Linked DNA regions of Homo sapiens. The protein of the gene in region 1 purifies or fractionates together with the protein of each later gene. This does not show direct contact. Each region holds a gene or a part of one and is shown on either strand. Other genes may lie near its edges.

Evidence for each region.
Region 2: the proteins of CLINT1 (region 1) and SMAP2 purify together in Homo sapiens (affinity purification with mass spectrometry; 2 studies listed by BioGRID and IntAct, with this or other methods). This does not show direct contact.
Region 3: the proteins of CLINT1 (region 1) and PIK3C2A purify together in Homo sapiens (co-immunoprecipitation; 3 studies listed by BioGRID and IntAct, with this or other methods). This does not show direct contact.
Region 4: the proteins of CLINT1 (region 1) and REPS1 purify together in Homo sapiens (affinity purification with mass spectrometry; 2 studies listed by BioGRID and IntAct, with this or other methods). This does not show direct contact.

The regions. Positions count from the first base shown.
Region 1 is NC_000005.10:157,807,129-157,814,161, reverse strand, and holds part of CLINT1 (clathrin interactor 1), read left to right. Parts: intron 1-934; coding exon 935-1,099; intron 1,100-4,356; coding exon 4,357-4,534; intron 4,535-7,033. UniProt on the Homo sapiens protein: Binds to membranes enriched in phosphatidylinositol 4,5-bisphosphate (PtdIns(4,5)P2). May have a role in transport via clathrin-coated vesicles from the trans-Golgi network to endosomes. Stimulates clathrin assembly.
Region 2 is NC_000001.11:40,418,727-40,423,855, forward strand, and holds the end of SMAP2 (stromal membrane-associated protein 2), read left to right. Parts: intron 1-3,249; coding exon 3,250-3,375; 3' UTR 3,376-4,596; downstream 4,597-5,129.
Region 3 is NC_000011.10:17,197,954-17,204,986, reverse strand, and holds part of PIK3C2A (phosphatidylinositol 4-phosphate 3-kinase C2 domain-containing subunit alpha), read left to right. Parts: intron 1-611; exon of another isoform or gene 612-680; intron 681-7,033.
Region 4 is NC_000006.12:138,985,223-138,992,348, forward strand, and holds the start of REPS1 (ralBP1-associated Eps domain-containing protein 1), read right to left. Parts: upstream 3,032-7,126; 5' UTR 2,461-3,031; coding exon 2,308-2,460; intron 1-2,307. UniProt on the Homo sapiens protein: May coordinate the cellular actions of activated EGF receptors and Ral-GTPases.

The DNA.
Region 1 (7,033 bases):
AGCAAATTAAAACAGTAGTTGGAGTTGTCAGTCACCTGAACCAGCTTAGAAGCTTCTCTGCTCTAATTAGAATGTGACTGTTGCTGGTTGTGTGACGAGTGCAGAATCCAAGACGTGGGGCCCTAGAGTATTAATTAGTGAAGACAAGAACTTGCAGAAAAGACTGGCTAATAACAACAGAACCAACACAACATGAGTGTTCGGGTTTATATTAAAATATGCACTGGAGACTGGTCCCCTGTGGTGTCCATAAAGGAATAGCTTTAATCATATGGGAAGAAAAGGTTAGAGCTCCAAAACACACACATCTGTTTGAAGCTGGGGTTTTTTTCCCTCCCACCAAATAATATTTACTGTGCAAAGGCAGCAAGGCCACAGTGTGTTTTGAATGTGAAAGAGGCTAGAAAATGAAGCACATTTCATTTTGTAGCGTACCCCACTTGTAAGCACTTTAAAAATTCAGTTTTTGAGCTATGCTAAAACCTCATAATTAGTGTTCCAGACGTGTACTGGGGAAACCAAGACATTTGTGTGCTTTTCAGTTATTAACATGCTAAAGTGGTTCTTCTTTTGATTTGTTTTCTTAAAATATGATAGAAAAACACAATAGCACTTATGGATATGTCTATTTTGTGTGGTCATCATCAGTAATCCTTTTTAGGTCAATCTTTAATTGACCTTGCATAGTACCATTATCTGTGGTCCTTTTTAGTTCATCTTTACATGCTCTTATAAGCCAAAATTCCATTTTAGAACTTAGAATTTGCTGAAGAGGAAATGACAAAGTTAAATAGCACAACTTGCCCCTTTCTATTGTTTTTTAAATATTGAAGTTTCTTATGTTGAAGTTTTTGTGTCTTTTTTTTAATCTTAAAGAGCTTGATACATATTAAGTGAATTCTTAGGTTTTGCTTATCTCTTACCATCCTCATAGATGAGCATGGTAAGGATCAAGGTATAAATATTCGACAGAAGGTGAAGGAATTGGTTGAATTTGCCCAGGATGACGACAGGCTTCGTGAAGAGCGAAAGAAAGCAAAGAAGAACAAAGACAAGTATGTTGGGGTTTCCTCAGACAGTGTTGGAGGATTCAGATACAGTGAGTATCAAAGACAAGCTGACACCTAAGCATCAGCTTAGCTTCTTGAGTATATTTTAAGAATCAGTGAAATACCAAAGACCAAAATGCTAATTTTCTTTTCTAGGAATACATAGAATACTAAAATACACGCAGTACTAATCTTGACTTCTACTATCACATGAATCTTCCTATTTTTAACTTGTGGGTTCGGCAATAGGATTTTAACCATTAATGGCTAATTAAATGACTGCATATTTTGAGGTGTCATACAGAGATTAAAACAGATATATGCCCTTCCCTCTTAGGATTGCCATTTTAAAAAGAAGGGGGAAGAAAGTTTCTATAACTCAGAGTTTAGAGTATAAAAATAAAAAGTTTGATCAGGAGATCCATCTTTCTAATTTGAAACCAATTTAGCTGTATTTTTGGCCCAAACCAGATAAGCTTCCTGACAGTCATTCCAGCCTCAGTCTCTCTTTCTTTATTTAAGCATTGCATACTTTGACATATAAAAGATGACTGACGATACTCGCAGTTTTTCATCTAGGCCTATTGTTTTGTTTATTCTTCCCAGTACACTTAAGAGCAGCTAGAACATTCATCTTTCATGTTTATTTTTAATATAATAATATAGTTTCTCTAAAATAGGGCATAGGTGCTTGAAGCAGATACACAAAATAGGAACTGTCTTTCACGGCATGTCCCTTTGGACTTGTTCTGTCTTCTGTGAGCTCTGACAATCTCTTGCTCATTTTGTGTATGTGCAGACTGGCCAGTGCTGTGTATCTTAGCAGCTGTTCACTGAGGCTCTCCAGCTCCCCCCACCCATATATGTTTATATTTGGATTATATTGAGCTCTCATATCTCCTTCAATGGAACCATGTAAAAATCTTAACATATAAAATATCCTTACTCATTTATTCCTCTGCTTTCCCACTCTCAAAGAAAAAACACTGCGTTTAGTTAGCTGTTTAAGGATGTTTCTAACAGCAGAAAAATTCCCTTTTTTATATTGAAGCATCAAATACAAGTTAGTTTTTTCTTTTTCTTTTTTTTAAATAGGGCTAACTCATAGGCAGTGCAACCAGAGTCGGCCACAAGTTAGTTTTTGAATTGGGCAAAAATATTTCTCCTAAAGCATATAAATAATGTTTTGAAGTTTCTATTTGGGGAAGTCCAAAGTTTTTGGATTATTTACCCAAGTAGTAACTTTATTCTTCAGGTTTTTCAAAGTAGTTGTAGCAACTTAATGTGTTTTTAATAGAAATTGCTATTTGAAACTTATTTCCACACTATTCTTGCTTGTATCTTTCTTTTTGCCAGCATGATATATAATTATATCAGCTAAACTTAGAAAATTGAATACGTTTTCAAACTCAGTCACAATGCACTAACTGCAGCATCTGTATTAAAGATAGAGTTGGATATCCTGTGTGTTTGCATCACATCCTTTTGCTAAGTTATTGTTCATGGTTTATGTTATTCAGACTTAACTAATCACTCTTAGCAGTTTTGTGTTTTTTCTTTTTCTTTTCTTTTTTTTTTTTTTTGAGGATTCTTGCTCTGTCATCCAGGCTGGAGTGCAGTGTTACCATCTCAGCTCACTGCAACCTCCGCCTCCCGGGTTCAAGTGATTCTCCTGCCTCATCCTCCCAAGAAGCTGGGACCACAGGCGTGAGCCACCATGCCTCGCCAATTTTTGTATTTTTAGGGTTTCGCCATGTTGGCCAGGCTGGTCTTGAACTCCTGACCTCAAGTGATCCAGCCACCTTGGCCTCCCAAAGTGCTGGGATTACAGGCATGAGCCACCGCACCCGGCCAGTTTTGTGTTTTTTCATTCTGACATTAGATAATGTCTTGCCAATATCCAGTATCTTTAGCAGTAATTCAGTATGATGTTCACCATGCCATGCTAATCAGTTTGGTTTTCATCCACTTCCATTTTTCGTGTAAATTTGTTTCTTTCCGAAGTCTGGTTCATCACACTGTTGTTGAAATGTACATACACATTGTTGGAAAATCACTTTTTTTAAAAAAACCATCCTGGTTTAAATTTTGTCTAGAAAACTTCATTTTGTCATGTTTTCTTTAAGTTGATGGTCATTTCCAGATTCAGTAAATATGTTAAAATCCTTAAACATGTAACAGAAAATTTTAGCCTTGCAATTTTAGGAGGCAATTCAGCAAAATCGTTTTGTTCAATCTCCAAAGGCTATGTATCCTTTTAGATCCTGTAAACAAAAGTTCAAAACAAAAGCTCCATTAGCCACTTTTTAGTTATTTTGTTGTTTCTCATTGTCCTTTTCATTTTCTTCCAACCTGCCTTAATTTTTAATGTTTTCTTTTTTAAAAATACCTCACGTGCTCTCTGTACCTTCTACTGTTGCTTCTTAAGTTGGATTTGGACATGGAAATGGAAGGGTTTCATTTTGTGTCTGTAATTCCTATGTCTCCTTTGGGTCCCTAGGGGCAAGGACTAAAACAAATCTTGACATTTTGGGTTTTTTGTTTACTGCCACGATCTATTCTCTGCATTCCCAAATTCACACAGAGGCTCTAGGTTTCGCCAGTCTCAGCATATGTTTGGAATGGGTGTTTGAATTGGTTGACACTGTTCTGAACTACTGTTTGAGCATACTTCCTGATTCTAGTATGTGTAGTTTTTGGTAGTTAGAGTAATCCTTTCTTTGTACAGTAATTACGGAATGCTTTCCCATCCCCTGAAAATTCATTGAATTATTTTTTTAGTTTGATACTGAGGCGTGACAGTTATTGAGACTTTTTAGCTTATTGGGACATGTAGCATTCAGATTGGAGTTCCTTCAGTTGTATTTTTTAAGATACTGTTGCTATCCAATGCTTTTCTGAAAATTGGGAAACCATTAAGGGACAGGAATAAAATATAACATATTAAGTGTCTTTTGTGAAAACAGAAAGATTTTCATTTCTCTTTTGCTTATATAGCTTGTGTTGGTTTTGTGTTTTCCACTACTCCTTTCAGTAGCCTTTAAGAATTTCCTGATATGCTGTGCTGTGCATTAAGGTTGTGTAAGTATTCATAAACAAAAGCTTTTGAATCTGCATTCCTGCCACTTAATGACTGGCATTACATGCTATGCCTTGCTGTAATTGTGTTGATTCAGCACTGTGGGAGCTTTCTGTTTTCCTTTGAAAATGATTTTATTATGAGGAAAAGCCTGAGAAATAAGGACTTGTAGATACCTTTTGAATTTAATGTCGTTAGAATTGCTTCTTTTTTTAATGCTCTATCTAGGTGAAAGATATGATCCTGAGCCCAAATCAAAATGGGATGAGGAGTGGGATAAAAACAAGAGTGCTTTTCCATTCAGTGATAAATTAGGTGAGCTGAGTGATAAAATTGGAAGCACAATTGATGACACCATCAGCAAGTTCCGGAGGAAAGATAGAGAAGACTCTCCAGAAAGATGCAGGTATTTTACCACTTTGTCTCCCGGGTCTCTTAGAAAGAGCCCTAAATTTATGCCACTGGGTTTTTGGTTTTTTGTTGGTTTTGTTTGGGGTATTAACATTATCTGAAATTGGGCCTTTTTTTTTTTTTTTAATAGACTTCATTTGTTTTTAGAGCAATTTAAGCTCACAGAAAAATTGTGCATAAAGTACAGAGTTGTCATATACCCACTTCCCCTTCATAACAGGTTCTGTGAACATCTTGCATTACTATGGTGCATTTGTTAACAATTGAAAAGCCAGTATGGATACACTTATTAACTAAAGTCTGTAGTTTACGTTGGGGTTTCCTATATTGTACACTTCTATGGGTTTCGACAAATGCATAATATTCCTCATTACTGTATTGTATAGAATAGTTTCACTGCCATAAATATGCCCTGTGCAGAAATGTGGAACAAGTCTTAAATGTGCAAGTTATCCTTGCACAGGGGGCATGCTAATCTTCCCTGTATTGTTCTGGTTTTAGTACATATGCTGCTGAAGCAAGCACTGTGCAACTATTTTTAAGATACTAGGTTATACACTACTTGCAATTAGTATTGACATACTTTCCATGTTGCCTCTGTCTACTTATTTTTGAAGTTGATCCTGTGTATTTTTATTCAAGCTAGTAGTCTTTCCTTGGATTTTTTTCCCCAGTAAAAACTTGTATAGATTATTTTGCATTTGGACCTTAGATGATCCAGGGACCTAAGATACTGAGGGATAATGAAGTTTATATATTAAGTTTAATTAAACATAAGTCAAAGGATTTGAAATTTAATGCTTCCTTGACATTTCATTATGATTCTGTGCCAGTGTGTACCAGAAAAACAATCCAAATGGATTTTGAACCAGTTTTTGAGAATAGAGCTGTATTTTTATAAACTACATTTTCTGATGGTATTTAGTTTTACATGGAACAATACTTTGAGCTTTGCAGCAGTCACTTTTGTTCTTACTTACCAATATTATTATAAACCAATTTTTCTGAGAATGTAAAGGGTAATGCATATAGCACTTAATTTACAGAGCAAATTTTACTTTTTAAATTTGACCTTTATCATTTGTGCCTCACAATATCTCTACTAGAGTAGAATAAGAATTTTGTCTTTGTTGTTTATAAGTAAAACCTAAAACCCAGTCACACTGTGTGGACTTGCCTAAATAACACAGTTAGTGATGGAACCAAGCCTTCAAGTGAGTTCTCGTAACTAAATGCCATCTCTTTTTCTTTACCCTGCGCCAAAAATCCTAATAGTTCAGAATTAGGGATCATTAAAAAGAGGTCCAAACAAAAATACAATCTAATTAGTGTATTTTTAGGATGTTTTCATATCTTTTAAATCCCTGGAATGCCTGTTCAGGAAATACCAACAGAATAATGGCCATAATTTCAATAATGTTTTCCAAACCAAGCCAAAACTTACACAGGCCACAAAAACATTAATGAGGGAAACAGCTCTGTATATTTGAAGTGGGCACCATTTCCCTCCCAATGTTTAGTATTTATAATTATCATATGCATCCTTTTTCAGTATAAAAAAGCTAGATATATACTTGTAAAATAGATTTATTCAAAGTGCTAAAAATAAGTTCTAGCTCTTCAAAGATCACATTCCAGTTTTTCAAACAGTCTTGAAAAAGAGACATTTCAGGGCAGGCTCAGTTCCACCACTAACTGTGTTACTTTAGGCAGATCCACACAGTCTGGTTGGGTCTTAGGTTTTACTTATAAACAATAACGCTATGTAGGCTGGTTAGATATCTGTGTGTGTTCTGTATTGTTACTTTCTCTCCTTTGCCCTTCTATCCTTAGTTTTTCTTTTCTTTGTCTCTCTACTCTTCTTTTATTTCTGTTTCTCCCATGATTTTTATTTTTTATGTTGCCTCTAAGACAGGATCTCCTAGAGTTTCTAAATCTTTAAGGAGTATTTAGGTTTAAAAGAGTGAAAATGCAGTGAACATGATTTATCGTGATAATGATAGGGCACACCAGGAACTTTTTATCTTAAAGTATTTGTGAGAGAAGAGTAGATTTTTTGACAGAGTTGCATATGACCTCAATCCTGATGGCATGTTACCTGAATTTCATACTTATTAGTTCACTATTACATTCAGGAATTCTTGAACATTGATCAGATATGGAGCTTCCATTTCATCGTGTGCTAGTCAGATTTATATTTTCAACTTGTGAATAAATTATTTTGCGCTGAAATAAAATTGGACACCAAAAAAGTAAGAAATTTCAGTTTTACTTGTAGGACTAATGGGAATCTTCAGGTCATTTGTTGTTGAGAAGTTAGTAAGGGCTTTTGAATGCGTATCAGAACTTGTAGGTTCCTTAAAATGTTTATATATAAAAATATATTTAACCCCTTTGCTCTGTGTGGGAAGTCATTCTTTTTGATCTTTGATTTATACAAGTTCCAGATTGGTTTATATTTAAGTACAAGTTGCTATAGTTCAGTCTGAGGTAA
Region 2 (5,129 bases), on another chromosome or scaffold:
TACAAAAAGAATAACAAGGAGAGTAGTATTTTAAAGACACTCAAGTGTATGCAAGACACAACAAGTATTTTACAACCAAGCCAGCCAAGCTATCCTTCAGGTATCAAGGCTGTAAAAAATAAATATGCAAGAACTCAGAGAATATCACACTTACAAGACTTTCCTGGGGAATCTAACAGAAGATAAGCTTCATCCACCTAAGAGATGACTGGGGTCATTTTCATTTTTGGCAAAAGAACTGATGGTGAGAATTGAATGTTTAATTGAGAATCTAAGACTAAAACAAAGGTGGTGACAAGCGTTGCAGAATATACATTATATTCTGACAAACAAATACAACTGAAAATGAAGGAGGAGGGAGAAAAGTTGAATAATAAATATTGTATGGGAAAGAAGTAGAAATCGAAGGATGCAATAAGCTGACAAACCAAATCACGGAAGCTTGAATAAGGAAAAAGGAGACCAAGGACATTGCTAAAAAGTATTACTATGAAGGTAATCACTAGAACAAACACGTGAAATGTTCTGAATACCAAGATAATTTTCTTCCTTTCTTTTTTTTTTTTTTTTTTGAGACAAAGTCTCACTCTGTCACCCAGGCTGGAATGCAGTGGCACAATCTCGGCTCACTGCAACCTCCGCCTCCTGGGTTCAAGTGATTCTTCTGCGTCAGCCTCCCGAGTAGCTGGGATTACAGGCACCCGCCACCACACCCGGTTAATTTTTTTTGTATTTTTTAGTAGAGACGGGGTTTCACCATGTTGGCCAGGCTAGTCTCAAACTCCTGACCTCAGGTGATCCACCCACCTTGGCCTCCCAAAGTGCTGGGATTACAGGCATGAGCCACTGCGCCCAGCTGAGAATTTTTAAAAACAGACTACAAAGTGCAGCAAATACAATAAACACAGTAAAAATCTAATATGATGGAGTTGAGACCAAACATACCAGTCATACCAGTAGGCAACTCTTCTATCAAAAGAAAATGATGTTCAAATTGGCTAACAAAGCAACACTAGTTTTGCACTAGGTACAAAGAAATACAAAGTGATTTAATGTGAAAACCAAGAGACAGGCAAAGGAACCCCAGAGAGGTGGTATGGTGCATGTGTACTGCACATGTGCATGTATAGCTATCTTTATCAGGGTTATACTTATTTATAAGAAGTACTTTTATGTTTTTGTTTCTCTGTGGTCCAGAATAATTTATGTAGCTCTGGTCTTTGAAGGTTTTGTGGAATTCCCATGTGAAGTTTGTGGGCACTATTGCTTTTTTTGTAGCAAATCTTTGATACTTTTCTCTGTTTCTTCTATGGAAGTCAATTTTGGAAAACTGTATTTACCTAGATTTTCCATTTCGCCAAGGTTTTCAAATTTATCAAAAGTTATGCCTAGCAGTCTCATTAATTTTTTTCAAAGAACCAGGATTTCGATTTATTGGTGCTACATTTTTCCGTTTTCTACCTCAATTTCCGTAGGCTTTCTATGGGTTTACTTTGTTATTTTCTAGCTTTCATAGTGGAGATTTTAATTCACTTATTTTCATTGTTTCGTTTTTATTTATATAAGTAATGGAATGCTATAAGTCTGATGGGAATATGTCAGAGGGACGCATGAGCCAACTTCCAGTGGCTCTGACTGGCCAAATGTGAGACAATTTGAACATCAAAAAGAGTAACAACAGTAATGGATTATGACACACTGAATGGAAAAAACAAAACAAAACCATGAGTCCACGGTGATATTTTTTAAAAACCAGGTGTGGAATGGAGGGAGGAAAAGCCTTCTTTACAGAAGAATGACAGTAGTTGTAAAAAGAGCAAAGGATTGACACATTTGCAAAGAAATGCCCTTCAGATTATTTATTAATTATAATGAAAGAAATATAGTCACTACCTCAGCCAAGTGATCAAACATAAAATTACTGACAGAGGAACAAAGTAATGTCATATGCTTCCTGATATTTTGTACTAAGAAAGACATGTGTCACCTCCATAGAATCTTGCCAAAAATATTGAACCTCGATCCAATTATGAGAAAACATGAGATGAATCCAAATTGAGGGGTATGCTACAAAATAACTGTCCTGGGTTCTTAAAAATGTCAGTGTCAGGAAGAAATGGAAGGAAGTGTTAGGGAAACTGGTCTAGCTTAAAGGAGACTACAGAGATCTGAAAATGAAATGCCATGTACATTAGAATATGGTGTTAATGTTAAAATTCTTGAGCGTGTTCATTGTTTTGTGGTTCTGTTAAAGTGTTCATTCTTATGAGGTGCCTCCTGACTTAGGAATGAAATGTCGTGATAGCTGCAGCTTTTTTTTTTTTTTAATCTGCAACTTTTGATACTCATCAAAAAAATGTAAGTTTTTTTATAGGGAGGGAGAGAAAATATGGCAAATGTTAACAGTTGGTGAATTTAAGGAAGAAGATACATGGGTTTTATTGTACTATTGTTTCAACTTTTATGTCAGTTTGAAATTTACTTTAAAAGTTGGTACAAGAAAATAATAGTTTCTCCTAAAGAAAAATAACTTATATAGAAAATTTACTAGGCTTAGGAAATTCAAGGCATTTTTCTCCATAAAGTATTTTTCTGTTCACTGCTAGGGGCCAGTCTTTCCATCAGATTCATGAAGGACCCCCGCCCCATCCTGCCCCAGGCCTTATTCCACTGACTGTTTTCTCCCAGCTCCTTCCCTTCTTATACACTGAAGACACATTAGTCTTCCCCCGCCCCCGCCCCGCCACCGCCTTTGTTCATTCTGAACAGTCCAGTTCCTTTTTTTCCCCCTTGTGCAAACGAGCAAGCCTGCTCAAGCGCTTTCCCTGACACTGACAGTAATAGCTGTGCTGAAGATGAGGCGGGAGCACTGGGGAGGGGGCTTTCCTTTCAGCTTTTAGGATTGGCCAGGCAAGTTAACAATAGGCCCCTTCTATTTAGGATGAGGGACTGGAAAGGAAAAAGAGAGGAACTCATGCTGATTTTCTGTCGACTAGATCCAGATGCCAGGATGCCTTCTTTCCCTCCCTGAGCTTTAGTCTCCGTCAGCATTGCACTCCCAAAAGGTCATTCACGTACGTGGCCTTGAAATGATCTGACTGCTAAGGTCCAGGGTTTACTGTCCATAACAGAGTTTCCCTTTGTCTCATTCTCCCCATCCTGGCAGAGAAAGGGACTCTCACCCTGCCTTTTGCACTAATTGGCGGAATGCCCACAGCCTGGTCTGAAAGTCTCCTCTCTCCCTTTCAGATGACCCAGCAGATGGCTGGGATGAACTTCTATGGAGCCAATGGCATGATGAACTATGGACAGTCAATGAGTGGCGGAAATGGACAGGCAGCAAATCAGACTCTCAGTCCTCAGATGTGGAAATAAAAACAAAACACCTGTATGGCTGCCATTCTCTTCAGCCCTCGCTCTCCCCTTTCCACAGCCTCCACCCCTGACCCCCATCCTCTTTTCCTACCTCTCTGTTTGGTTTAGAAATTGCTCAATAAGTCATTTGGGGTTTGGCATCCTGCCCAGCCACTTCCCAAACATGAAGACCTCTCTGTTGCTTTATGTTGTACATGCCCCATAGCCATCCCAACGTCCTCCCCAGTCCTCTCCTGGCACCAGCACCTTAGAAGTTGTTGGCAGAAGGCACTTAAACTGTGGGAGAAGTGTGCACACCTTTGAGTCCCTTCCCTCAAGGTTAAAGCTCCTGTCAGACTCTCAGAAGGGTCTGTGGGTGTTGTATATTAGGCAAACAGGGGAAAGCTTAGAGGTCCTTCTATATGTGTTAATAAGCTGTTTCTAAGTGTTTAAATTTGAAAAGCATCATGTTCTCATGATTTATGGGAATGAAGCAAGTACTGAAATCAAATTAAATACTCCCTGGGTCCTGGGTCAGTTTGACCCTAGCCCTGGGGTGAGGCAAGCCCCCTCCTATGAGGATGAGCAAAAATACTACTCTCTTCGCCCTGAGTTGCTTTCTGGATCTGGGGCTTCAGGACTTGCTGCTTCAGTCAGCCTTTATTAGCACCAAAGACTTTATGAAGATCCCACACACAGACACACATCCCTTCCCGCCTCCCCCCTGCCTTCAGTAGGATCTGGCTCCGTGGCTGGAGGACCAACCCCTATAGTGGGAATGCAGAGCTTAACGTGTACTGCTTGTGTGTGTGCGTGAGTGTGTGTGTGTGTATGAGTGTGTGTTCCGCCTCCCACCCTCTCCCCATCTGCTCTGGGTATTTTTGTTTTTGTTTAGTTTTAGGTTTACAACAGAGAGGAATTAATTTATCAGCAGCCTAAAACTGTTGTGTTTTTCTTATGGTTTAAAAAACGCCATGTCATTGATAACTCCCTTTCTCCCTTCCCTTCTCCCGGTCTGCTGATCACTCTTTCATGCCTGTGTATCCAGGGTGCTCTGTTTCCCCACCGTTCCCAGGTGTACGAGGCAGAGGGCCGGGACAGCTTTCCTCTCAGTCATTGTTCACCCCACTTGAAAATTCAGACAAGAAAACTTTGCTTAAAAGATTTCATGTGTGGGAACCACAGTTCCTGGCTGCCTTTCTCCTGTGTATGTGTAAATTCCTTAATAAATATTGCAGGGAAGGACTGTTTGCTTGGCCATTACTGTGCGTCACTCTTGGAGGAGGGTGCGTTACACTTAGGTTTTCTGTTTTCCAAAGGCAATTGTTTCACTTCCTGTATTTTAGAAAATTCTGTACTTCTCATACCCAAGGGTGAGGCCCAGGCTCCAGCAGTCAGAAAGGGGGCCTCTCTCCACTGGCATCTAGAGCTGTGAGCTGAGAGAACTCCAGAGATCAGCACCTTCTAGAGTCACAGAGCATCAGAGCGGCATGCTTTCCCCCCACAGGTGGAGAAACTGAGACACGGAGAAAGGACATGGTTGGCAAATGTCCACTAGAGAACCCTGGGCAGAACCGGCAGTAGCCTCCAAGTGTCTGGATTTCCAGCCCCTTGTTCTTTCCCTATACCATGGCAATTAAGTAGTGAGTTGAAATTCCTCTCTGCCAAGAGAGCAGTAGCTTTGGCTGGTAAAGGTAACTCACCCCTCTCTGAGCTATCAGAACTGGACCTTCCGTATCAGTGTCAGGAATTAGGACACTCAATCCTGGGGGCAG
Region 3 (7,033 bases), on another chromosome or scaffold:
AAGCTGGTCTTGAACTCCTGACCTCAAGTGATCCGCCCGCCTCGCCCTCCCAAAGTACTGGGATTACAGGTGTGAGCCACTGCGCCTGGCCTATGCATTGTATTAATTTAGCATATTCCAAAAATAATTTAAGACAGGCAAATGATAAATGTGGATGTTTCTGGTGGTGCATCACATTGTAGGTGATTTCATTTTAGTAGTTGTACCTGCATAGGGCTAAAAATTAACCCTCTCAAAGCTCTGAGAGTGCCGGAGGGCCTGAAAGAGTGCCTGGTACTTCAAAGGTTCCCAGGGATAAGAAAAATGAATGAGACAGTGCTTGCTCTCAAGAATTTCTCATCCATTTGGAAGACAACGTACATTTTATAACAGTATAATTATAAGGGCAGGCTAAATAGGATATGGTCACCTGGGCTGGGAGATGGAAAAGGAATGAGGGGGTTTGAGGAGGAAGAGGATGCTCAAGTTGAGTCTTAAATGATTAATTCCTTCTATTCATAAGGGCAGGATGGATAAACGTGATCAGGTTCTAGGCCCTGCTCTGCTTCTATCAAGCGGTGAGATATTGAGCAAACTGCTTAATACTTCTGGTATCCATTTTCCTTATTCAGGATTCGACTACATATATAAAGCAGTGCTGTACATGAGAAATATGTGAGCCAAAAATGGGAGTCACATAGGTAGGAGATTTTACATTATTTTTTTCCCCTAAATCTTTTAAATCTGGTGTATGTTACACTTGGTACATCTCAATTTGGAACAGCCACATTTCAGGCACTTAATAGCTCCATGTAACTAGTAACTGCCATATTGGACAGTATAGATCTAGAGGCTGGGTGCATTAATGCATGCCCATAGTCCAGTGCTTTGGAGGATCGAGGCAGGAGGATCTCTCTTTTTTTTTTTTTTCTTTGAGACGGAGTCTCGCTCTGTCGCCAAGGCTGGAGTGCAGTGGCGTGATCTCCGCTCACTGCAAGCTCCGCCTCCCAGGTTCACACCAGTCTCCTGCCTCAGCCTCCCGAGTAGCTGGGACTACAGGCGCCCGCCACCACGCCCAGCTAATTTTTTATATTATTTTAGTAGAGACAGGGTTTCACGGTGTTAGCCAGGATGGTCTCAATCTCCTGACCTTGTGATCTGCCCGCCTCGGCCTCCCAAAGTGCTGGGATTACAGGCGTGAGCCACTGTACCCTGCCAGCAGGAGGATCTCTTGAGCCTAGGAGTTTGAGGCTGCAGTGAGCTATGATCACCACTGCACTCCAGCTTGGGTAACAGAGTGAGACACTGTCTCAAAAAACAACCACCACCACAAAAAAGATCTAGAGGCTATTCTGTCTTGGTTCTCTGCTTGAAAAAGGAAAAGGGACTCCAATGAGAAAATTATCACTGGTAATTTATAATTTGTAATCATTTTGATGGTACTCATATATGATGTTCTTTTGATGAGAATTATGGTCATACTTGCAAATATTGCTGTAAGTATCTTTCAGGTTGTTCATAGGATTATGGTTGGGATGAGAAGAAATGTCTTTGTTTTCTCTGCATCTGTAGTGGAGTCATATTTTTGTTATCTTTATTTTGTTCATTTATGTATACTTTGTATCCTTTTTTTCTACAGTATGTTATTTCTTTTTTTCTTTCTTCTTTTTTTTTTCTAATAGAGATGGTGTCTCACTATGTTGACCAGGCTGGTCTTGAACTCCTGGCCTCAAGCGATCCTCCCATCTTGGCCTCCCAAACTGCTGGGATTACAGGCATGAGCCACTGCACTCGGCCTGCAGTCTGTTTTTCTAATGTAATGGATTTAAAACACAATGAGAGTGCATATGGACATTTTAGAAAGTTAAAAGGAGAATTTATACAATTTTAAACTAATTCTTGGATTTCTTAAAATTTTAAACTTAGCTATTTGGGTACAAAAACAAATGGGATTTATAAATCCTCTTTTAATAGATTTGAAGGCAGTTATTGTTGGCTTAGCAACAAGTATTTATCTTTTAACCTTGAGACTGCATTAAGATAGTGTATAATTAACATGCTTACTGTTAAACATAAGGCTTTCTGTTAGTATTACAGTATAACAGTTACATTATTGATATGACTGATGTGCAATGTTGGTGCACTTAATTTGCTGTGCACTGAGCTTGGTTAAAAAACACTAGTGGCTAATTTTAGACAAGATAGCTATGACTGACAATAATACATCTTTACACTTGGATTGACTGATGGTTATAGCTTAGCTAACACTGTTTTCCCTCCAAGACCTTATTACCTGTGAGGTAAATACAGCAAGTATTCTGATTTTGCTGAGGCCCAAAGATGTTGTGACTTACTTAGCATAATAAATTAGAAGCATTGCTTGAATTCAGGTCTTAACAATGCTAGGCCCAGTGTTCTGTTCTTTTTTTTTTTTGAGGGAGGTTCTCTCTGTGTCGCTCAGGCTGGAGTGCAGTGGCTCCATCTCAGCCTACTGCAACCTCTGCCTCCCACACTTGGGTGATTCTCCCACCTTAGCCACCCAAGTAGCTGGGACTACAAGCACGTGCCATCACGCCTGGCTAATTTTTGTGTTTTTTGTAGAGGAGGGGTTTTGCCACATTGTCCAGGCTGGTCTTGAACCCCTGGGCCCACCTTGGCCTCCTAAAGCGCTGAGATTACAGGCATAAGCCACCACGTCCACCCCAGTATTCTTTTCTTTTCTTCCTTCTTTCTTTTTTTTTTTTTTTTCTGGAGATGAAGTCTCACTCTTGTCGCCCAGGCTGGAGTACAATGGCGCAATCTCAGCTCACTGCAACCTCCGCCTCCTGGGTTCAAGTGATTCTCTTGCCTCAGCCTCCCGAGTAGCTGGGATTACAGGTGCATGCCACCATGCCCGGATAATTTTTGTATTTTTGGTAGAGATGGGGTTTCACCATTTTGGCCAGGCTGGTCTTGAACTCCTGACCTAAGGCGATCTGCCCGCCTCTGCCTCCCAAAGTGCTGGGATTACAGGTGTGGGCCACCGCCCCGGGCCCCAGTATTCTTTTCATTGAATCTCTTCATATGGCATTTGAGTGTTTAGATACATAGTACAAACCAGATTTTTGGAGTGTATAAAGAAATAGTTACTTCCTGCCTTTGGGAAGTTTATATTCCAACTAGGAGAGACCAACTAACTACAATCCATGTAGCAAAAAGTACTTCAGTTATTTAAAAAAATTTGTTACGGGAAAGAAAAGATGTAAGGGATAATATAGTCAAATGGAAAATAGATAAGAGTTAATTAGACAAGATTTTTGAGTAAAGAGTTTAGATTGTAAATCCTTACTATAGGAAGAAGAAGATGATGAGGTGTTAAGGATAGTGTTATTTCAATGCACAGAGAACAACTTAAGGGAAAACTTAGCTAAGGGAACATAAAACGTAGGTTTAGGGAAAGCTTTTCTTTTTTTTTTTCTTTTTTCTTTTTTTTTTTTTTTTTTGAGACGGAGTCACGTTCTTTCACCAGGCTGTAGTGCAGTGGTGCGATCTTGGCTCACTGCAACCTCTGCCTCCCAGGCTCAAGTGATTCTCCTGCCTCAGCTTCTCAAGTAGCTGGGATTACAGGCACACGTCACCACGCCCGGCTAATTTTTGTATTTTTAGTAGAGATGGGGTTTCACCATGTTGGCCAGGATGGTCTCAATCTTTTGACCTCATGATCTGCCTGCCTCGGCCTCCTGAAGTGCTGGGATGACAGGCATGAGCCACCACACCAGGCCTAGGGAGGGGTTTTCAAGGCTTATTTTTTATTTTTATTTTTTAGATAGAATATCGCTCTGTAACCCAGGCTGGAGTGCAGTGGCACGATCTTGGCTCACTGCAACCTCCGCCTCACAGGTTCAAGCGATTTTCCTGTCTCAGCTTCCTGAGTAGCTGGGATTACAGGCGTCTGCCACCACATCTGGCTAATTTTTGGGTTTTTAGTAGAGACGGGATTTCACCATGTTGGCCAGGCTGGTCTTGAACTCCTGACCTGAAGTGATCCGCCCACATCTGCCTCCTAAAGTGCTGGGATTACAGGCATGAGCCACCGTGCCCGGCTTGAATCGCCTAGTTTCATCTGACTAGATCTCATAATGACATTTATCAGGCTAGAATTCTGTGTGTATTGAAATGTATGACATGATACTACCATTGTTAAGGATTCTTTTTGAAAAGTCATACTTATTAAGGTATAATTTACACTTAGTAAAATTCATCTGTTTTAGGTGTAAAGTTCTGTATAGTTCTGCTAAAACAGATGAATTACAAAAAACAGTGACAGTTGTGTAACTGCCACCACCACAATTAAGATACAAGATATAGAATATTTCCATCACTCCAAAAATTTCCATAATTATGCCCTTTTGAAGTAAATCCCTTCAGCCCACCCCTCACTCCCTGGCAACAGCTCATTTGTTTTTTATCCCTATAGTTTGGCCTTTCCCAAAATGCCATATAAATTGGCATCACACAGTGTATATAGCCTTTTGAGACTGGCTTCTTTCATTTAGCATAACACTTTTGAGATTCAATAACATGTCTCTTTTTTATTAATAAACTTTTTTAGAAAGTTTATAGAAAAATCATGAAGTTACCAATTTACAGAAAATTTGTAATTGTAGTACAGAGAAATCCCTTAAACCCTGCACCTAGTTTCCCCTATGTTTAAATTTATGTAAACTACTAATTTTTGCTAATGGTCAAACCTGCAAGGTTCTAGAATTAAGTTTGTTGAAAATGGGAAACAATATGAAGATTTCGATCAAGACGATGACTTTCTAATGCCTTTTTTTTTTTTGAAATGCAGTCTCGCTCTGTCGCCCAGGCTGGAGTGCAGTGGCGCGATCTCAGCTCACTGCAACTTCCTCCTCCTGGGTTCAAGCGATTCTCGTGCCTCATCCTCCTGAGTAGCTGGGATTACAGGCACGCACCACTATGCCCAGCTAATTTTTGTATTTTTGTATTTTTTGTATTTTTTACCATCCCAAACAAACTCTGTAGCTGTTAAGCAGTGACTGTTCATTCTCTTCTCAACCCAGCCCCTGGTAACCACTAATCTACTTTTTTTTTTTTTTTTTTTGAGATGGAGGCTGGAATGTAGTGGCACGATCTCAGCTCACTGCAACCTCTGCCTCCCAGGTTCAAGCAATTCTGCCTCAGCCTCCCGAGTAGCTGGGACTACAGGCATGTACCACCACGCCCAGCTAATTTTTGTATTTTTAATAGAGACAGGGTTTCACCATGTTGGCCAGGATGGTCTTGATCCACCTGCCTTGGCCTCCCAAAGTGTTGGGATTACAGGCGTGAGCCCCTGTGCCCAGCCTCTACTTTTTGTCTCTGTGAATTTACCTATTCTAGATCTTTCGTGTGATTGGAATCGTGTAATATTTAGCCTTTTGTGTCTGACTTATGTCACTTAGCGTAATGTTTTCAAGGTTCATACATGTTGTAGAATGTATCATTTTTATGGCTGAATCATATTTAATGTACCACATTTTGTATATTAATTCATTGATGGATACTGCATTTGTTTTCACCTTTTGGCTATTATAAACAATGCTGCTATGAGTATTAGTGTACTCCTATTTTCAGTTCTTTTGGGTATATATCTAGGAGTGGAATTGCTGGGTTGTTGTAATTCCATATTTAATTTTTTGAAGAAACACTAAAGTGTTTTCCAAAGTGGCTGTACCATTTTACATTCCCTTAGCAGCAAAGTATCAGGGTTCCACTTTTTCTACACCCTTGCCACCACTTGTTGTTTTCCTTTTTTCCAGTTATAGCCATTCTAGTAGGTTGACTAGTGATATTGAGTATCTTTTCATGTCCTTATTGATAATAAGTTGGCTTTTTTTTTTTTTTCTTGAGACGGTGTCTCACTCTGTTGCCCAGGCTGGAGTGCAATGGCATGATCTCAGCTCACTGCAACCTCTGCCTCCCAGGTTCAAGTGATTCTCTTGTCTCATCCTCCCAAGTAGCTGGGATTACAGGTGCCTGTCAGCACGCGTGGCTAATTTTTGTATTTTTGGTAGAGACAGTGTTTCACCACGTTGGCCAGGCTGGTCTCGAATTGCTGACCTCAAGTGATCCACCCACCTCGGCCTCCCAAAGTGCTGGGATTATAGATGTAAGCCACTGCGCCCAGACTAAGGTGGCTTTTTTTTTTTGTTTTGTTTTGTTTTTTATGAGGTCTTGCTGTGTTGTCCAGGCTGGGATACAATGGCTATTCGCAGAGACAATCGTAATGCAGTATAGCCTTGACCTGATAGGCTCAAAGGATCCTTCTGCCTCAGCCTCCAGAGTAGGTGGGAGTACAGATGCATGCCACTGTGCACAGTTAATGGTAGCAACATACTGATGCTTGTTTCAACAATGGTCAAGGCAGGGTGATGTTAACATTTTTTAAAAGGAAAAATAATTGGATGGAAACGTATTTTAAAATCGCTATTATATGCTAAGCATTTTATTATATAATTTTATTTAACTCTGAAAACACAGTATTATCTGTGTTTTACAGATGAGAAAACTAAAGACAAAGGGAGATCAAGTAACTTACTTTAAAAATCACACAGTTGGCCTGGCAGTGTGGCTGATGCCTGTAATCCCAGCACTTTGGGAGGCTGAGGTGGGTGGATCACCTGAGGTCAGGAGTTCGAGACCAGCCTGGCCAACATGGTGAAACCCTGTCTCTACTAAAAATACAAAAATCAGCCGGGTGTGGTGGCGGGCACCTGTAATCCTGGCTACTTGGGAGGCTGAGTTAGGAGAATCGGCTTGAACCTGGGAGGTGGAGGTTGCAATGAGCGGAGACTGTGCCACTGTACTCCAGCCTGGGAGACAGAGCAAGACTCCATCTCAAAAAAAAAAAAAATCACACAGTTTATAAGAGGGAAGTCTGATATTTGCTTGCTGCTACATGGTTCTTTCTCCTGCTATCACTGTTATATAAAACTATGAATTTAATCCACATGTTGATGTCATGTGAAAGTAAGACTTTTTTAGTCATAGAAATTGATGGAGTTTGGGGGAA
Region 4 (7,126 bases), on another chromosome or scaffold:
TCCACCCTAATTTAAAGTCCATCTGAATTAAGTCAAAAAGCCTTTCTTGGTCATACCTCCTTAGCATTTCATAACACTTGGCACCTCTCCTATGGCATACATTATACCTTATGTTATACATGAGCACTCCTATAATTGACAAGATCCTCAAGAGCTTCTTACTCCTCTTCTGATGCCTGCAATGCCTAGCCCAGTGTTAAGTAGAGAACTAAGCATTAGATATGAGCTGCCCCAAATGTTTCCCACTTAGAAAGCAATGGAGGACTGTGTTTTCAGACAATCCCAAACTCCCTTAAGGGAATTAAGCACATATTCTCCTTTTGTCTCATATTTCTATGTCTTAGACCAATTTTTAAGTAAATTGCCTTCAAGATATCTAGACTGCTATTTAGTATACATAACTGTAAGAGTTCTGCTCCAGGGAGTTCCAACTTGTAACTGAACCCTGAATATTTAAGCTCTCTCTTTATGCCAAAAGACAATGGAAATTTATTTTTTGAATGTTAATAAAATTGAGCAAAACATAAAAATAACTTGCACTGAATTAAACATGTTTGAAGTAAAGATTCATTAATGCTAATGTGTCTGTCCTAAAAATTACATTTCAAGTTCTAAAGTCTTTGTGTACCCATTAAAAAGATTGAAAGTTTTATTTCAACTCTTTCTCACCTCAAAGACAAACTAAAATAGAACAGAGAAGGCTTTTCCTTAATTTTATTTAGATCCTAACTTGAAGGTATACTTTGTTATTTCTTCAAAAGGAGCAAAAAGAGTATGATTAATGAGCATGTTCTGACCAGATCTCTAAGTCCTACTCCAAAGCTGTAACAGGAGAGTACCATAGACCACACTACCAGCACCCTTCGTTAGCAGACCACAGGCTTTGTTTTGTATCTCCCTGAGCTAAGAATGGCTTTACATTTTTGTGTTTTGTAAACACAAGAAGAAGAATATGCAACAGAGAGCATATGTGGCCAGCAAAGCCCAAAATATTTACTATTTGTCCCTTTTCAACAGGATGAATTTGGGACTCCTCGTTGCCCTTCACTGGCACGTAAGACATCCCACCTTTAAAAAAGCAATGTAAAACACAAGACCATTTAAAAAGATCGAACTCGTTCAACTTAGTCATAGTTAATGCAGACTTAACTTCTAAAACAGAGACCTGTGTGTGGACATTTTTATTCTTCACAGAATTTTTGTTGGAAGAAACTTGCCTTCATTCTGTGGATGAACATACTTATGCTTGAAAATGGAAAGTGCCTGACCCAAAGTCACACTGCTGGTTAACAGCAGAGTAGGGTCAAGGACCCAGCCTTCAAAACCCTGGTCCAATGCTTTGCAGTCCACTACATACACCTATACATGTGGCTTTAAATTTTGGAGATGTGGATAACTAGCTTGGATCAATATAAAAGATGAAAGCTTAAAACCTGTTCCTAACATACTGTTTAGACAGACTCCTACTAGCAGCTATGAATCATTAAACAGAGTAGCATTAATGCTCACCACATACATTAGATAAGAACTTCTAGGAAGTCCTCTGTTTCAAAAGCAGATATGATAAAAAAAGGCTTTAAACCTACAGGGTTTGCTCCTCCAGGGCTTCAGATTAGGGCAAATAACGCACTTCTGCCTACCAGCTGTTCAATACTCATCTCCCAACCCAAATCCACAAGTTCCACAAATGCTTTCGAATGCCTGTTGAAAAACATTGTTCAGTCTCATCACATACACACGTTCTACAGATAATTACAACTTCTTGTATGCCTACTTGTAAAACTACTAAGTAGTTCACATTTTAAAAAATTTCCCTAAGAATTTTGCTTCCTTTAAAAAAACTGCTTCTTCGATTCCTAAATCTATAGAACTCACTTTATCACGTCTTCTCGGTTAATCCAAGAATTAAAAAAACCATTTTGCCCATACTGATAACTTTACTACTCTGCAGGATCCGAAAAGCTCTCTATATGCCAGGTTCTAGGATTCACACACATTAACAACCTAAGATCCTTCAAGTGAGATAGCTCTTGCAGTACAGAGCACAGATTCTCAGGGTCGTGGGGGATACCGGCTGAGGCTCTTCAGACCCCCACCACAGGAGTTCCGTCCTCTAAGGGCAACCCCCTCCCCCTTGGCCGCGGCGCGAGTCCAGGCCTCCCGGGCACCTGCGGCCCCTGCCCGCTGCGGGGACCCCCCGAGGAACCAGCCCCCCGCCGGGCCCCAAGGAATCGGCGCCCACTCCCACTCCTGGAGGCCAGTGACTGCAGGCCTAAGCCGCCCGCCGGCCCCGGGACGCGACGTTACCTGTAGGACCACGTCGTTCGGCAGCTGCGCGGCCCGGAACAGCTCCAGCACCCGCCCGTTGACCACCACCTTCTTGGTGCTCTCAATGTCGCAGTAGGAGAAGAGATCTGAATAGTATTTCTGCTCCGCATCGCTCAGCGTTAAGCCTTCCATCTTCGCCTCCGGCTCACGGCCGCCCCGCCCCGCATGCACTACTCGGGGCCCGGCCCCAGGAACCTGGGCCGGCAGGGGCTGCGCGTGGCCCGGCCTCCTGCTAGCTTCCCGAAAACGCCGGCCCCGGCCTCACACGCGCCAGGTGCGCCCGAGCAACAGGGCCCGGAGGTCGCGAGGAGGGGGCCCGGCTGCGCTCGCCGCGCCGCTGCCTGCGAGGCCCGGCGCGCGGCTGCGGCTGCGGCTGCGACTACGGCTCCGGCTCCGGCTCCGGCTCCGGCCGCGGGGAGGGTGCAGAGAAAGAGGCGGGGGCCGCGGAGGCGCGAGGCACTGGCGGACTCCGCCCCCGCCGCGGGTTCGAGTCTCCCCGGCTCCCTGCCGATTCCCCCAGACTTCCCGCCTCGGCTTCCCCTTCCGTCCACGCCTCCGGAGCGGCAGCGCTTCCCGGAAAGTTGTGGGGCTTCGAACCTAAAGTTTCGGGGGATCTGGGCTGAGCGTGGCCGCCGCTCCGCCTCCCTCCGCCGCCATTTACAGTGCCCCGGCCCGGCCCCGACGCGCCCGCACCAACAGTGACAGCGGCGGCCGCGCTCCAGACCCGGATGTGAGGCCGGGAGGAGAGAGCGCGAGAGGGAGAGAGAAACACCCACCGGGCTGGCTTGGCCGCTCCCGGGAGAGGGAGGAGGCCGCAGCGCCCCCTGGTGGCCGGCGCCCGGCGGCGGGATGACCGAGCCGCCCTCTGCGCGGAGATCTCAGCAGCAAGACCCCCGGAAAGGGGGGTGCAGTGGGAAACAGCCGGCAGCTCATTAAGACCGAGATAACTAAGATCCGGGTTGCAGTTTTTATGTTTCGCAGTTTCTGGTCCTAAGCGTCTGAATAATTGGATTGAAAGGGGAGCCTTGTTCAGGTTATTATCATTCTATCTGTACCTTTTCGGTACAGATGAAGATAAATGCAGTATTTCCATCTGTTCTGAAGGGCTATGAACATCCGGGCTATGAACATCCTGGCTATCCGGGAAGCCTCCACGTAGACACCAACATTGAGGCTTCATCTCACTCGTGCTTCAAGCCATGTTTACCTGAGAAACAAAATGTGCTGAATAGAGGGGAAAACTGGCAAAGTTGTCCTCTTTGTTCACCAGGTCATTCCGGTCACTGGGAACTTAATACTCTACATTTATACCTTCAACTCTATCAACTCATGTAGGCCCGGGGCTGCCCACAGGGGCTGCCTTCCGTATTTTCTCCTTTATGAAAATCATGGAGTGGCGCTCTTTTAATCTGCACCTGTCCCAGAGAGGGGATTCTTCAGCTATTTCAAGTAGAATATCTTAAGAATTTATACTTAGCAAATATAAAATACTTCAAAGACGGGAGCTAAGGCAGAATTACCCAGAGTTCTGGTTTTTATTTTGTCTTCTACAAGTTGTTTCCCAGAGTGCGGATCCTATAAATGACACATATGAGGAAATTATTACAGGTTCCCAGTCATTTATCTGTAATTGCAAAATTCAAAGCGCACTGAAAACCCAAAGACTTTTTTTTGTAACCCTTTGGAAGTAAAACCTGCCCTGCCTCATTTGGAGGCAAAATCTAAACTAAGCTTGCATGAAGCTATTTCTAGCCTTTATGGATCCCACTTAGTGTCAATATTTACTCATTTCACTCCAGGTCTTTGTAGAATGTTAATATGTACACAGTCACAGGCATTCTATTATCTTTCTATTTTTTAAGAAAGATAAGGGATTTTAGACCTGTCAATGTCTTCTGACTTGACTAGTAGTATTTGATAAAGGTAAGTATATACTATCCATTAAGCTTATTTCCCATCTCTAAGACTTTCAGTTTGCTACAGCAGCCCCTCATGTGTCCTTTCAGGGCACCTGCAGCAAGTGATCAGACCCCCCCCAGACAGCTGCCTTCCAAAGGTGTAAACAGAAAGAGCACAATGGGGTAGGGATTGGCTCACAATTGTCTTTGCATCTTTTTCTCTGCCACCTCTCCTAGGCCTTGCAGCTCTTGTCGGCCCCAGGGCCTTTGTTCCTGCCATCTAAAATAGTCCTTCCACAAACCATGGCATGGCGTATTCTCTCATATGGTTTCAGGTCCCTGCTCATATGTCACCTCCTCAGAGCAGCCTTCCTGCAACAGCTGCTGTAAAATAATCCCACCATGCACTATCCCCTTATCTGAATTCCTTTTTTTTCTCTTTTGAGACAGAGTCTCCCACTGTCACCCAGGCTGGAGTGCAGTGGCATAATCTTGGCTCACTGTAGCTTCGACCTCCCAGGCTCAGGTGATTCTCCCACCTCAGCCTCCCAGGTAGCTGGGACCACAGGCCCAGGCCACCATGCCCACCTAAATTTTGTGTATGTGGCTTTTGTAGAGACAGAGTTTTGCCATGTTACCCAGGCTGGTCTCAAACTCTTGGGCTCACCCACCTCAGCCTCCCAAAGCGCTGGGATTACAGGCATGAGCCACTGCACCCAACCTGAATTCTTTTTCTTTATAACACTTTTCACTATCTGACATTACATATATAGCTGTTACATTTTTAACGGCTAATTATTGAATAATTACTAAGTTTCAGGCATTGTTCTAAAGCTTTACACTAATAACCACATTATTCACAACAACCCTATTAAGTGGTACTACTAGGTTTTTTTTTTTTTTTGACAGATTAGGAAACTGAGGCAAAATGGGTTAAGTATTGTGTAAGTCATGTTGCTATTAAATACCCGGATCTGGGATTCAAACTCCAGGCTGTCTCAACTCTAAAAATCACTACCCTATCTTGCCTGTCTAATTTCTTTGTTAAGTTTGTTATTAAGAAAATATTTCTTCACCAGGCATGGTGGCTTATGCCTGTAATCCCAGCACTTTGGGAGGCTGAGGTGGGTGGATTGCTTGAGCTAAGGAGTTCAAGACCAGGCTGGGTAACACGGTGAAACACCATCTCCACCAAAAATACAAAAATAGCCAGGCATGATGGTGTGCACCTGTGGTCCCAACTACTCGGGAGGCTGAGGTGGGAGGATCACTGGAGCCCAGGAGATAGAGGCTGCAGCGAGCAGTGATTGTGCCACTGCACTCCAACCTGGGAGACAGGACGAGACTCTGTATCAAAAAAAAAAAAAAAAAGAAGAAGAAGAAGAAAGAGAGAGAGAAAGAAAGCAAGCAAGCAAGAAAAGAAGGAAAATATTTCTTCATTGCCACAGTGCCAAAGCCCAGTATGTGACACATAATGTGTATCAATAATAATTTGTTGAATGAATGAAAGCATCAATTTTGACATTGATGTGATAAGCCATTCAATACAGTAAGTCCTCAATTAATGTTATTGTGGATAGGTCCGTGGAAACTAATTTTAAGCAAAACAAGGTATTCTAACCAAGTAGTTTAGCTTCAAAAGAAAACTTTTTTCTTTTCTCCTTTCTTGCCAGTCTCAAGCTGTAACCTTGAAACAAACTGTAGAAACCTTTTCTCTTTAGTCTTAAAATATAGCCTTGAAACATACTTTGAAACTCCACTCCCTTCTATTTCCCACAATGTACTCCCTTACCCAATGCACATTTATCTAACTGTATGCTTCTTAAAAATTCCAGGGGCTAATTTAAAATGAACTAGGCACAAAGGCCCAGCTGCAGAATTGTCCCCCACTTAAAGATTGCCTCAAGATAGATAATCTGCAGCCTGGCCACAGGCGAGATGACGCCAGCCTGCATTTTAGATGGACCATAACTCAAGATAGGCGTTGAAGCAAGACACACAGCCCGGGCTCCCGGCACAACTCTTGCATGTTTCCCATATCAAGGTTCCCTTTTTGAAACCTCTGCCTTCAGCCCAGACTTTTGAAGCAGTTTCCAGAGGTGTAAGCTGGCTGTTTCCCCACTGCTAGCTTTGAAAAATAAAGTCACTTTCCTTTCACCCCTTGTTATTGGGTTTGCAAAGGGCAAACAGCCAAGGCTGCACTTGGTTACGGTATCACGAAACCAATTTTATCATAGGCTAATTGATAATTTGCTACAAACAAGAGTTAAGTTGCTGTGACATATTTCTGGTCACAGAATCACCAAATTTCTAAATCGAGACCAAAACACTTCTAATATTAAACATTTAAGTAAAGGTAAGCTACACATGCAACTAAAATGATTAACTAAAAAAAAAATAACTACTTACCCTATTTTTGGTATATTGGTGAGTTACCACGGTTGTCCTGGTGGTGGGTTAAATCAAGGAATAAATGTCTGCAAAGTGAAGTTCAAAATCATCACAAACATGGTGGCTTGCTGAGCTCTCTGGCACCACCTTGTTTACTGTTTTGCATCTGTATGATCATCATATGCTTTACACATTTTTATTTTTCAGTCACTTATATTCATTCATTTTCCTACCTACTTATTCCATTTCGGGGTTGTGGGTAGCAAGAGCCTATCCCAGTGGCTCATGGGACAGGTAGAACCCAGCCCCTGTCTAGGATGTGATTGCATCACAGGGTATACACACACACACACACACACACACACACACACACACACACACATCCACACTCACTCAGACTGGGACCATTTAGACACCCTGACTTATCTAATGTGCACATCTTTGGGATGTGGAGGGACACCTGAGGATTCAGAGAAAACCCACACAGACATAGGGAGAGCATGCAGACT